Linked DNA regions of Homo sapiens. The protein of the gene in region 1 purifies or fractionates together with the protein of each later gene. This does not show direct contact. Each region holds a gene or a part of one and is shown in the gene's direction. Other genes may lie near its edges.

Evidence for each region.
Region 2: the proteins of FAM3D (region 1) and SPECC1L purify together in Homo sapiens (affinity purification with mass spectrometry; one large-scale study listed by BioGRID and IntAct). This does not show direct contact.
Region 3: the proteins of FAM3D (region 1) and CNN1 purify together in Homo sapiens (affinity purification with mass spectrometry; one large-scale study listed by BioGRID and IntAct). This does not show direct contact.

What each region holds. Positions count from the first base shown.
Region 1 is NC_000003.12:58,663,853-58,668,062, reverse strand, and holds the start of FAM3D (protein FAM3D precursor), read left to right. Parts: upstream 1-1,288; 5' UTR 1,289-1,487; exon of another isoform or gene 1,488-1,525; intron 1,526-3,129; exon of another isoform or gene 3,130-3,430; intron 3,431-4,210.
Region 2 is NC_000022.11:24,277,183-24,280,831, forward strand, and holds part of SPECC1L (cytospin-A), read left to right. Parts: intron 1-3,649. UniProt on the Homo sapiens protein: Involved in cytokinesis and spindle organization. May play a role in actin cytoskeleton organization and microtubule stabilization and hence required for proper cell adhesion and migration.
Region 3 is NC_000019.10:11,541,722-11,545,370, forward strand, and holds part of CNN1 (calponin-1), read left to right. Parts: intron 1-3,649. UniProt on the Homo sapiens protein: Thin filament-associated protein that is implicated in the regulation and modulation of smooth muscle contraction. It is capable of binding to actin, calmodulin and tropomyosin. The interaction of calponin with actin inhibits the actomyosin Mg-ATPase activity.

The sequences.
Region 1 (4,210 bases):
GGCACCAGTTATGGGCAGAACCGTCCTAGCAGAATAAGGGAGAGCAAGAGGCAAGGAGATGGGACAGAGGACAGGACCAGTCCTAAAGCCAGTCAGAGTGAAGGAAAGCACTGCCTCGCCCTGGGATACATCCTGAGGGGGCCCACGTGCCTACCTGGGGATGGGCAGCTGGAACAGCAGAACTGGGGCCACTCCCGGCACCTCATCACACAGGGTCCGCTCCCTGCTCTTCCCTTGCACCAGCTCCCTGGGCATGCATCTTCATTTCCTGACCAGCTGCTGGACCTCATGCCCCTGAATATTCCTTCCAAGTGGGCCACACAGCCTACGGAAGCATTCAGAGTCAGCAAACAAGGGAGGAAGTTGCCAGGAGCCTGTGTGCCAAGGACCGAGGCAAGAACTCCTCCTAAGAGGAAAGCGCTTGGGAAAGAGACCATGATTTGTGACAAAGACTGGGAGTGCTGGATCAGGGGAGGGGGAAGCTGAGCCCCTCTCAGTGCACCTTGGGTCCTAAGGAGAGAGAAGGGAGACAAAGGCTGCATTCACCATTTCACTAAAAGTCTGCCACTGAGCAGCCCTTCTTTTCTTTCTCCGTCTTTCCCTTTCTCCACACCCCACCCCCTCCACCTTTAACCTCTAATTCAATATGCCCCACCCAAATCCAGAATCTTTTCCCAAACCACTTCCTCTCCCCCATCTTCCTCACTCTTGACCAAGAAGCCTCCCTTTTCCATCATCCAAGCTCAATATCTTGCAGTTGCCTTTGACCTCCTCCATCTTTCCTGTCCTGAGTTTCTTGCCTGGGTTCCCCTCTTTCCAGTCAGCCCCTCCAGCACCCCCCCACACTCTAGTCCAGAACCTCAAAGCAGGTGATCATCAGCTGCAGTTACTCGCTCTACCAGCCCCACACCTCCCAGCGCCTGGGGAGGTTGTTAGCACAGGGTCGGGTTTTTTGTAAGGTTTTTTGGCTGTTTTCGAAGGCAGATTGTGGTATCTCATTCCTGATTAAGTTGCTTGAATTCCCACCCAAACCTCCCTTGCCAAGGTCAGGATAGCTCTACAGGAAGGGAACAGGCATGGCCCTTCTCCCCAGGCCCCAGCCAGGCCCTAAGCCACTCCTCAGCCAGGCAAGACTTTAGACTCATTTCCTGCCCCGTGAGCACTTAGAATAAACTTCCTCCTTCCTTGTGAGATTGTTTAACAGGGCAGGGAGAGTTGATGGCAAACTTCCTCAAAGGAGGGGCAGAGCCTGCGCAGGGCAGGAGCAGCTGGCCCACTGGCGGCCCGCAACACTCCGTCTCACCCTCTGGGCCCACTGCATCTAGAGGAGGGCCGTCTGTGAGGCCACTACCCCTCCAGCAACTGGGAGGTGGGACTGTCAGAAGCTGGCCCAGGGTGGTGGTCAGCTGGGTCAGGGACCTACGGCACCTGCTGGACCACCTCGCCTTCTCCATCGAAGCAGGGAAGTGGGAGCCTCGAGCCCTCGGGTACGTCCCCCCAAGAATGGAAAGGGCTATGGTTCCAGGTACACATGATTGACAGAGGGGAAAATGGAGGTGGGGAGGGTGGGAAATAGGAGTGAAAGAGCCTGAGACAGAATGATGAAAGGAAAGAAAGAAGGAAACCACATAATCGAAGAGATTCCTGAGATCAGACTCAGGAAGGCAAATAGATTTCATCTGAGGCACCAGGCCTGATCAATGAAATTAGACTGTGATAAAAAGGATTCTGGGGCTGGGTTCGGGCTCAGGCAAAAGCATGCTATGATTGATTAGCTATGTCTGCCATGGGCACAAGAAGGAGCTGTAGGGCATGCCAGCTAGGGATTTGATAACCCACACTGCAGGGTTTTTTCCTTAACCACAGGGGCCCCTCAACATTTATTCTTTCATTCACTCATCTATTGATTCAAAAAAACACATTCCAATGATCAACAGTGAGCCACACAAATATTTGAAAAATGAATAAAAAAGAAAGGAATGTTGTTCTTTGGCCCCAAATCTCATTTTTCTCATAAGGTAATGATCTGAAAAGTTATGACAAAGGTGCATGGACTTGAGAGATTTTCTAGCTATGTAATATTGAGCTAGTCCCTTTCACTAAGACTCAGTTTCCTCATCTGTAAAATGGGAGAGAGAGTCTGAATATCCCCCATCAATCGCTGAAGTTCTCATTGTCTACGCAACTATGATAATCATCACTGAAGTACATAAAATAACATGTATGATGTGCTAAGTGCTCTCCATATAATAACACATTTAATCTTCCTATCACCTCTACAAGGAAAGCACCATGATTATTCCCACTCTGCAGACGGAGAGCCAAGGCAGTGAGAGATTTAATAACTTCCCCAGGCAATCTGGCTGCAAAGCTTTTGCTCCTGCCCACTATGCCACACTGACTCTACACTGCAGTGGATTCTGAGTCCATGGCTGGAAGTGGGCTGCCTGGGTACAAGAGTGTCCTTCTAGATGATTCATCCAGTGAGCATTAATTGGGTCAGGTAAAAAAGACACAATGATTAACAAGATGAGGTATCATACATGGTTCTAACCAGAAAGGGAAAACTTGCACAGATAGTCATTTTCAAAACAGTTTGACATACACCATGGAGATAGCCTGGGAGTCAGGGCAGACTTCTCCCAAGAGAATGCCGGGTCCTTCAGGAGTGAAGGGCAGGGGAGGAAAAGATTGGGTCAGTGGAGAATCTCTGAGAAGGGGGAACAGGAGGAAAGAAAGAGGAGGGCAGAGCAGCTCAAGCAGGAAAGGGGTAGTAGCTGGTGGTGGAAGGTGAAGTCAGTGAGGTTGTTGCGCCCAGGTCTGCACAGGCTAGGGAGGAGTTTGCCATTGCTCAGCATCTGCCCAAATCTGTGCATCTGCCTGTCTGCCCTTGGGCACCTGGAGGTTTAGGGGCTTCTGTCTTATGGCCATGGTGTGCACACCTCTTCCTGAGCTCAACTCCATCTTTACACACAGACCCTGCTGCTTCCCATAGGAATGTTGAAGCCTCCAGAACCCAGGGGCCTAACTTCCTCATTGGCACTTCCCTGCGGTGGGGGATGCTCGAAGTCATCATTTGCCAACATTTCCTGGTGCTGGGGCAGCTGCTCCCCCTTGGAGGAGACCTACCTGTCTACTACTGGCAGTCCTGGTGAGACTTCAAGTGGGCAGCCGACAAGCCTGCCTGGGGGACTGGCAGCCCCCACCCAGCCTGCAGTCCCAGAGGGCAGGTGCCCTGGAGCGGAGCAGACATTTCCTACAGTTGGTGCCAATCCCTTGCTTCTGGAGGCTCAGAGGTTTGCTCCCCCAAGGGTGTGGCCTGGGGAGACAAAGACATAGAGGTTGTGGGGAGAGCAACCCTGCCTTTGGCATTTGAATCCCAGTTCTGCCCTTTTTCCAACCATGTGACCTTAGGCAAGTTGCCTATCTTATTGGCTTGTCTGACCCTCCCTTATCTCAAAAGAATGAGGACGGTAATAAGTTCTTTGGGATTTGACAGTGTGCATTTTGAAAAAGACAATGTGTGCAAAGCATCTACCATGATGCTTGCCACGTAGTAGGTGCACAATATAGGACAGTGCTGTTGTCCAAGCTGTGCACCTTCTATGCACCAGGCAGTCTGCATGGAACTGGGCATTCAGAAATGATTAGACACTGTCTCAGGAAGTTCACAGCCTATCAGATAAATTAGTCACATCAATGATTGAGAGTAAAAGGAGTCAGGGACTGCACTGTACAAGAGATGTGAACAAGTTCTACGTAATCAGTACAAACAGCAGTCCCAAAACTGGGCAACGCATATGGAGGGTTGACTGTGTCTATAGAATGGTGCCAAGTACTGTACATGGATTAGCTGGTTTAAATACAATAACTTTGCATGGGAGGTCTTATCATCCCCATTTTGCAGTGAACTACTGAGGCCTAAGGAGGTGAGGTAACCTGCCCAAGGTGGCAAGGCTATGAACGGTAGAGAGAAGCTTTATGGCCAGGCAGTCCAGCTCCAGGATCCATGCTGTTGGCCACCACACTCCTCTCCCTCCGACATGCACACACATCGCAGAGGGAATGATCTAGGCCTGCACAGGCTGCAGAAGGGGGACCTCACAAAGGAGGCCACATTCCACAAAGTATGGAATTCCTCTGGCGAGGACAGGTGAGGGCAGCCCTGGTGGAGAAATCCCTGTGAGCAGAGGCATGGAGCTGGGAGCTG
Region 2 (3,649 bases), on another chromosome or scaffold:
CAACTCATGGCCCCTGGCTTTGGATTATTGTTTTGGTCTTTTATTTTTTGTCTTCTTCTACCTCAACACTTATCTTCCTCTCCCAGTCTCCGGTACCCTATCACCAAGGTTGTCATTAACCTTTCATATTATTCCTCATTATCCATGTATTCATTTGCAAATAAGCGTATATTAACAAAATCACAGGTTTATGGAGATATAATTCACATACCTTAAAATTCAGGCTTTTAAAGTGTACCTTTCATGTGGTTTTTGGTATATTCACAAAGTTATGCATTGATCACCACCATCTGATTCCATAACATGTTCAATACCTCAAAAAGAAGTCTGTACTCATTAGTAGTCATTTCACATTCACCACTCCCTCTGGCTCTGGGCAGTCACTGATCTTTGTGTCTCTATGGATTTGCCTAGTCTAGGTATTTTTATGTAAATGGCATCATACAACATGTGACCTTTTGTTTGGCTTTTTTCATTTAGCAAAATGTTATCAAGGTCTGTCCCTGTTGTAGCATGTATTAGCACTTCATTTCTTATATGCTGAATGATATACTTTATTTGTCCATCAGTTGTTCATGCTTTATTTGTCCATCAGTTGATGAACATTTGCGTTTTTGCCACTTTGGGCTATTAAGAATAATGCTACTGTGAACAAGTGTGTACAAGTTCCTCTACAAATTTTTGTGTGGACATATCCTTTCAGTTCTCTCAGGTGTATATCTGGGAATTGAATTGCTGGGTCGTGTAGTAGCTATGTTAAACACTTTGAGAAACTGCTATAATGTTCTCCAGAGCTGTACCATTTTAAATTCTGTGTATGAGGATTCCACGTTCTCCACTTCCTCACCAGTGTATGGATTTGGGGGTATACTTTTTAAAAAGTGGGATTAGGCTGGGCACAGTGGCTCACACCTGTAATCCCAACACTTCAGGAAGCTGAGGTGGGAGGATCACTTGAGCCTAGTAGTTTGAGACCAGCCTGGGCAACATAGGGAGACCCTGTCTCTACAAAAAATAATTTAAAATAAATTAGCTGGGCGTTGTGGCACACACCTGTAGTCCCAGCTACATGGGAGGCTGAGGTGGAAGGATTCCCTGAGCCCAGAAGTTTGAGGTTGCAGTGAGCCATGATGGCAGCACTATACTGTAGCCTGGGTGTCAGAGCAAGACTCCGTTTCAGGGAAGAAAAAAAAAAGTGGGATGATATTTTTGACACTTTTCTTCTTGTTTTCTTAATTTCATACTTCTGGAAATTCCATTAAATTAGCTGGTACCACTCTAACTCATTGTGTTTCATGGCTGCATAGTAATATTGCATAATATAAATATACCATTCATTCATCAAAGTTAGCAGATATTGACTGTTAGGTGCCAGGCACTGCTCTAAGCGTTAAAGAAAAACACACAAAAACTTTTGCATTCTTAGAGTTTATTTTCCAATGGAGGGGGTGGAGGGAGGTAAGAATTTAGGAAATAAATTAATTACATATATAGCATAGGGTTTCACCAGTGAGTGCAGCTTGAATCGTTGGCAGCTTTCTTAGTAGTATAAATACAGTACTAAAGATGAAATTACTCTAAATGGTGTTACTTAAATTACTGGAATAGGTATTACTATTAGTCACTTTGCAGGTGAAAGTGGAAACACCATCGTAAAATGTAAAATAGGAAACAGCTGGTTAATGTGGATCTGGAGTTTTTCTAGGACATAAACTGATGAGCCAGAAAAGTAAATGTGTCAGTCCTTGGTAGCACAGTTTGTACGTTTATAAATTTTATCCAAATCCTCTTAATCTAGTGATTAATAGACACTCTTCACAAAAGGATGAGGGAGGTATATGTATATGTGTTGAAAGGTTCCGAAGGATGCAACCGAGAGTACTTCGGGGGACGTGGCAAAACTTCCAGGCCCATTCAAGAGTCTTGTTTTCTCCCTGAGCTTTTATGTATTTATTATATTGCCCTATTAATTATTGAGATTGTGCCTTACAGTAAAAGCTGCTTTAAATTGTTGACGCTATAATTTAAAATAATCTGGGTCACCTAGAGTGGTTAAACCTGGAAGAAAAGGATATCCTTCCTGCCAGGGCAGATTGTATGTAGATATGCAACCTGGTTGCGCCTGTGCTGACCTCTACTCTGTTGGGCCTGGAAGTATGCAGTTCAACGTTTCTCTTCTGATTTTTAAAAAAAATTTGACTTTGTTTACTTTTTATTTTATTTTAATTTAGAGACAAGGTTTCACTATTTTGCACAGGCTGGTCTCAAATTCCTGGGCTCAAGTGATCCCCTTGCCTCGGCCTCCCAAATACTGGGATTACAGGCATGAGCCACTGCACCTGGCCTTAACTTTGAAATGAAGTTAGAAATGTACATTTTATTTTTTTAATTATTATTATTATTATTTATTATTTTAGAAACAGGTCTAGCTCTGTTGCCCAGGTTGTAGGGCAACAATGGTGCAATCACAGCTCACTGCAGCCTCCACCTCCTGGGCTCAAGTGATTTTCATGCCTCAGCCTTCCGAGTAGCTGGGATTACAGGCATGTGCCACCATGCCCGGCTAATTTTTTGTATTTTTAGTAGAGACCAGGTTTCACCATGTTGCTCAGGCTGGTCTTCTGACCTCAAGTGATCTGCCCGCCTCAGCCTCCCAAAGTGCTGGGATTATAGGCGTGAGACACCACGCCCAGGTGAACAGAATAGTTTTCCATTCACCACAGTTTGTGACAGTCTCTACATTGTGAAGTGACAAGTTCTCTTCTATTTTCCTTCTGCCCCTCATCACCTTTTTCTTCCTCATTTCTTTTTTGAATTTTGCTGTCTTGAATTGATGTCTAAAGGATGACATAGCAGACAAGGGGACTGACACATGAACTCTCATGAGTTACTGAGGAGTTTCTCAGTGCTCTGTCTGCATCATCTGCTCACTCTCTCCTTCCTAGGTGCTAGCCTGCCAACCTGCTTTGAGAAATTGGAAATGAATTGGGGGGTAATCAGCCTCCCCTTGTACATGTAGGGACCGCATCTCCAATGCCTTGCTTTACATAATGACGAATGGTGTTTTGCTTACCTACTTCCACACAAACTGCTGATATGGTTAGGATTTGGGAAAGGGGAAGAAGGGAATTTTGGGTTTTGAGGAGTAGCTGGGGCTTGAACAAAGAAGAGGTAGTAATGAACATTCCTGGGGTGAGGCAATTAGTTAGCTGAGGGAGAAGAAGGCATATAATAAATTAGGGATTGACAGACTGTCTGTAAAGGGCCAGACAGTAAATGTTTTAGTCATTGAAGACCTTAAGGTCTCTGTTGCATCTAATCAACTCCATCATTGTAGTGCAAAAGTAACCACAGCCACTACAGATGTGAATGAATGTGACTATGTTTCAATAACATTTTTTTTTTTTTTTTTTTTGAGACAGTGTCACTCTGTTGCTCAGGCTGGAGGGCAGCAGTATGACCACAGCTTATTACAGCCCTGACTTCCCAGGCTCAAGTGATCCTCCCACCTCAGCCTTCCAGGTAGCTGGGACTATAGGCATTTGCCACCGCCCCCCATTAGTTTTTGTATTTTTTTGTAGAGGCGGCGTTTCACCATGTTGGCCAGGCTGGTCTTGAACTCCTGAACTTCTGGGCTCACGCTCTCCAC
Region 3 (3,649 bases), on another chromosome or scaffold:
GGGATTACAGGCACGCACCACCATGCCTGGCTAATTTTTGTATTTTTTTAAAGTAGAGATGGGGTTTCACCATGTTGGCCAGGATGGTTACGAACTCCTGACCTCAATTGATCCACCTACCTCAGCCTCCCAAAGTGCTGGGATTACAGGCACGTGCCACCATGCCCGGTTAATTTTTGTTTTTTTTTTTTTTTTTTCAGTAGAGATGGAGTTTCACCATGTTGACTAGGCTGGTCTTGAACTCCTGACTTCAAGTGATCCACCTGCCTTGGCCTCCCAAAGTGCTGGGATTGCAGGCACATGCCACCACGCCTGGCTAATTTTTGTATTTTTTTTTTTTTTTTTTAGTAGAGACAGTGTTTCACCATGTTGACCGGGCTGGTCTCAAACTCCTGACCTCAAGTGATCCACCTGCCTCGGCCTCCCAAATTGCTGGGATTACAGGCATGAGCCACCTCGCCCGACCTTCTTCTTCTTCTTCTTTTTTTTGAGATGGAGTCTTCCTCTGTCACCCGGGCTGGAGTGCAGTGACATGATCTCAGCTCACTGCAACCTCTGCTTTCCGGGTTCAAGTGATTCTTGTGTCTCAGCCTCCTGAGCAGCTGGGATTACAGGTGCCCACCACCTTGCCCGGATAACTTTTGTATTTTTAGTAGAGACGGGATTTTGCCATGTTGGCCTGGCTGGTCTCGAACTCCTGACCTCAAGTGATCCACCCGCCTTAGTCTCACAAAGTGCTGGCATTACAGGCATGAACCACTGCACCCTGCCGGCCCTGGTTTTCTCCTCGCCTCAAAACCTCATTGCTGAGGGAGGTGAAAACCCTAACAGCTCCCAAGCCCCAGTTCCACTGCAATCTTTTTTTTTTTTTTCAGATGGAATCTTGCTTTGTGACCCAGGCTGGAGTGCAGTGGCATGATCTTGGCTCACTGCAAGCTCTGCCTCCCAGGTTCAAGCAATTCTCCTGCCTCAGCCTCCTGAGTAGCTGGGATTACAGGTGCCCGCCACCACGCCCAGCTAATTTTTGTATTTTTAGTAGAGACGGGGTTTCACCATGTTGGTCAGGCTGGTCTCGAACCCCTGACCTTGTGATCCACCCACCTCGGCCTCCCAAAGTGCTGGGATTATAGGCGTGAGCCACCGCGCCCGGCTCCACTGCAATCTTAATGCATAGCAGGGCCCTAAACCCAGCCTGCGCCCGATCTGCATTTGAGTCTGACCCAGGGCAGAGTGACTGTGAGTGGCCTCGGGAAGACTTTGAAGGTGCAGCTTCATCAAGTCCTAGATGCTGGGAAGAAGGGGTGTGGGGGGTGTTTACCTTGTTCCATTCCCATCCACTAGGAACAAGGAATTGGCAGGTGGGGAGGTAGGCATGCTGGTGTCCCAGCTCAGGCAGAGGACTGCTCAGACGTCAAACAGTGCAGTCCCAGCCTGGGCAACATAGCCAGATTCCATCTCTACAAAACATTTTTGTTTTAATTAGCTTGGCATGGTGGCATGCGCCTGTGGTCCCAGCTACTCGGAAGGCTGAGGTGGGAGGATCGCTTGAGCCCTGGAGGTCAAGGCTGCAGTGAGCTATGATCGCGCCACTGCACTCCAGCCTGGGCAACAGTGAAACCCTGTCTCAAAAAAAAAAAAACTAATGTAAACGACAAGTTGATGGGTGCAGCAAACCAACATGGCACATGTATACCTATGTATCAAACCTGCACGTTGTGCATGTGTACCCTAGAACTTAAAGTATAATAATAATAATAATAATAATAATAAAAGAGTGGGCCGGGCGCGGTGACTCACGTCTGTAATCCCAGCACTTTGGGAGGCTGAGGCAGGCGGATCACGAGGTCAGGAGATCAAGACCATCCTGGCTAACACGGTGAAACCCTGTCTCTACTAAAAAAAATACAAAAAATTAGCCGGGCGTGGTGGCAGGCGCTTGTAGTCCCAGCTACTCGGGAGGCTGAGGCAGGAGAATAGCGTGAACCCGGGAGGCGGAGCTTGCAGTGAGCCGAGATCCCACCACTGCACTCCAGCTTGGGTGACAGAGCGAGACTCCGTCTCAAAAAAAAAAAAAAAAAAAAAGACCTAATGTAAATGACGAGTTGATGGGTGCAGCAAACCAAAATGGCACATGTATACCTATGTATCAAACCTGCACATAGTGCACATGTACCCCAGAAGTTAAAGTATAAGAAAAAAAAAAAGAGTGTAGTGCAGTCACCCACGCACTCCGGTCATTCACTCATTCATTCATTCATTCATTCACAAAAGAAGCATTTATGAGTTCCTGCTGTGTGCCAGGCTCTGGCCTAGGCACTGGGAACAGTGAACAGAACAGACTCGACTCAGAGCTCAAGGACTTTTAGTCCAGTTGAGGAGATCAATCATATAATTGATCAAATAATCACAGATTTGTGGTCGTAAGTGTCCTGGGGAAAACTCAAGCGGAAGGGAAGATGGGAGGGTCAGGTATATGTCTGCGGGTGGAGAGTCTGCAGTTTCCTAGAGAGTGGTCTGGGAGGCCTCTCTGAAGAGGTGACATTTGAACAGAACCTTAGATGAAGTGAGGGAGGGCTCAGGGGACCTGAGGCAAAGCAGAGGGGGCCACCAGTGCAAAGGCGTGAGGTAGGATCGTGCTTGGGGTGTTCAAGAAACAAGAAGGAGGCTGGCGTGACGAGCACCAAATGATTGAGCAGAAGTGGAGATGAAGTCGCAGAGTGAACTGAGAGTCAGATGGTGGAGGGCATTTTATTTCATTTATTTATTTAGAGACAGAGTCTTGCTCTGGTGCCCGGGCTGGAGTACAGCGGTGCAATCATAGCTCACTACAGCCTCGACTTCCTAGGCTCAACTGATCCTCCCACCCCAGCCTCTTCAGCCCCAGCCTCCTCAGTAGCTGGAACTACAGGCACACATCACCACGCCCGGTGAAGTTTTCGGGTTTTTTTTTTTTTTTTTTTTGTAGAGACACGGGTCTCACCATGTTGCCCAGGCTGATCTGAAACTCCTAGGCTCAAGCCATCCTCCTGTCTCGGCTTCCCAAAGCACTGGGATTACAGGTGTGAGCCACTGTGCCCAGTTCTACAGAGGGCATTTTAGGCAGAGGACTTAGGATTTCATTCTGAAGGCAATGGGAGGCTCCTGGAGGATTTGGAACTGGACGGTAACTTGAACTGTTTAAAAAAGGCCATTCTGGGCCAGGGGCAGTGGCTCATGCCTGTAATCCCAGCACTTTGGGAGGCTGAGGTGGGCATATCACTTGAGGTCAGGAGTTCGAAACCAACCTGACCAACATGGTGAAACCGCGTCTCTACTAAAAATACACAAAATTTAGCTGGGCATGGTAGCAGGCACCTGTAATCCCAACTACTTAGGAGGCTGAGGCAGGAGAATTGCTTGAACCCAGGAGACAGAGGTTGCAGTGAGCCGAGATCCCGCCACTGCCTTCCAGCCTGAGTGACAGAGCAAGACTCCATCTCGGAAAAAAAAAAAAAAATTCTGGCTGCTGGATGAAGAAGGGTGGGTCTGTAGGGGATGAAGTGGAAGTTGGGAGCTCATTACAAGAGGCCAGGAAACAGACTCTGGTGGCTGAGACCCAGGTGGAGGTGGCGGGGAGCAGTGGGTGGTTTTCTGGACTCATTAAAAGGCA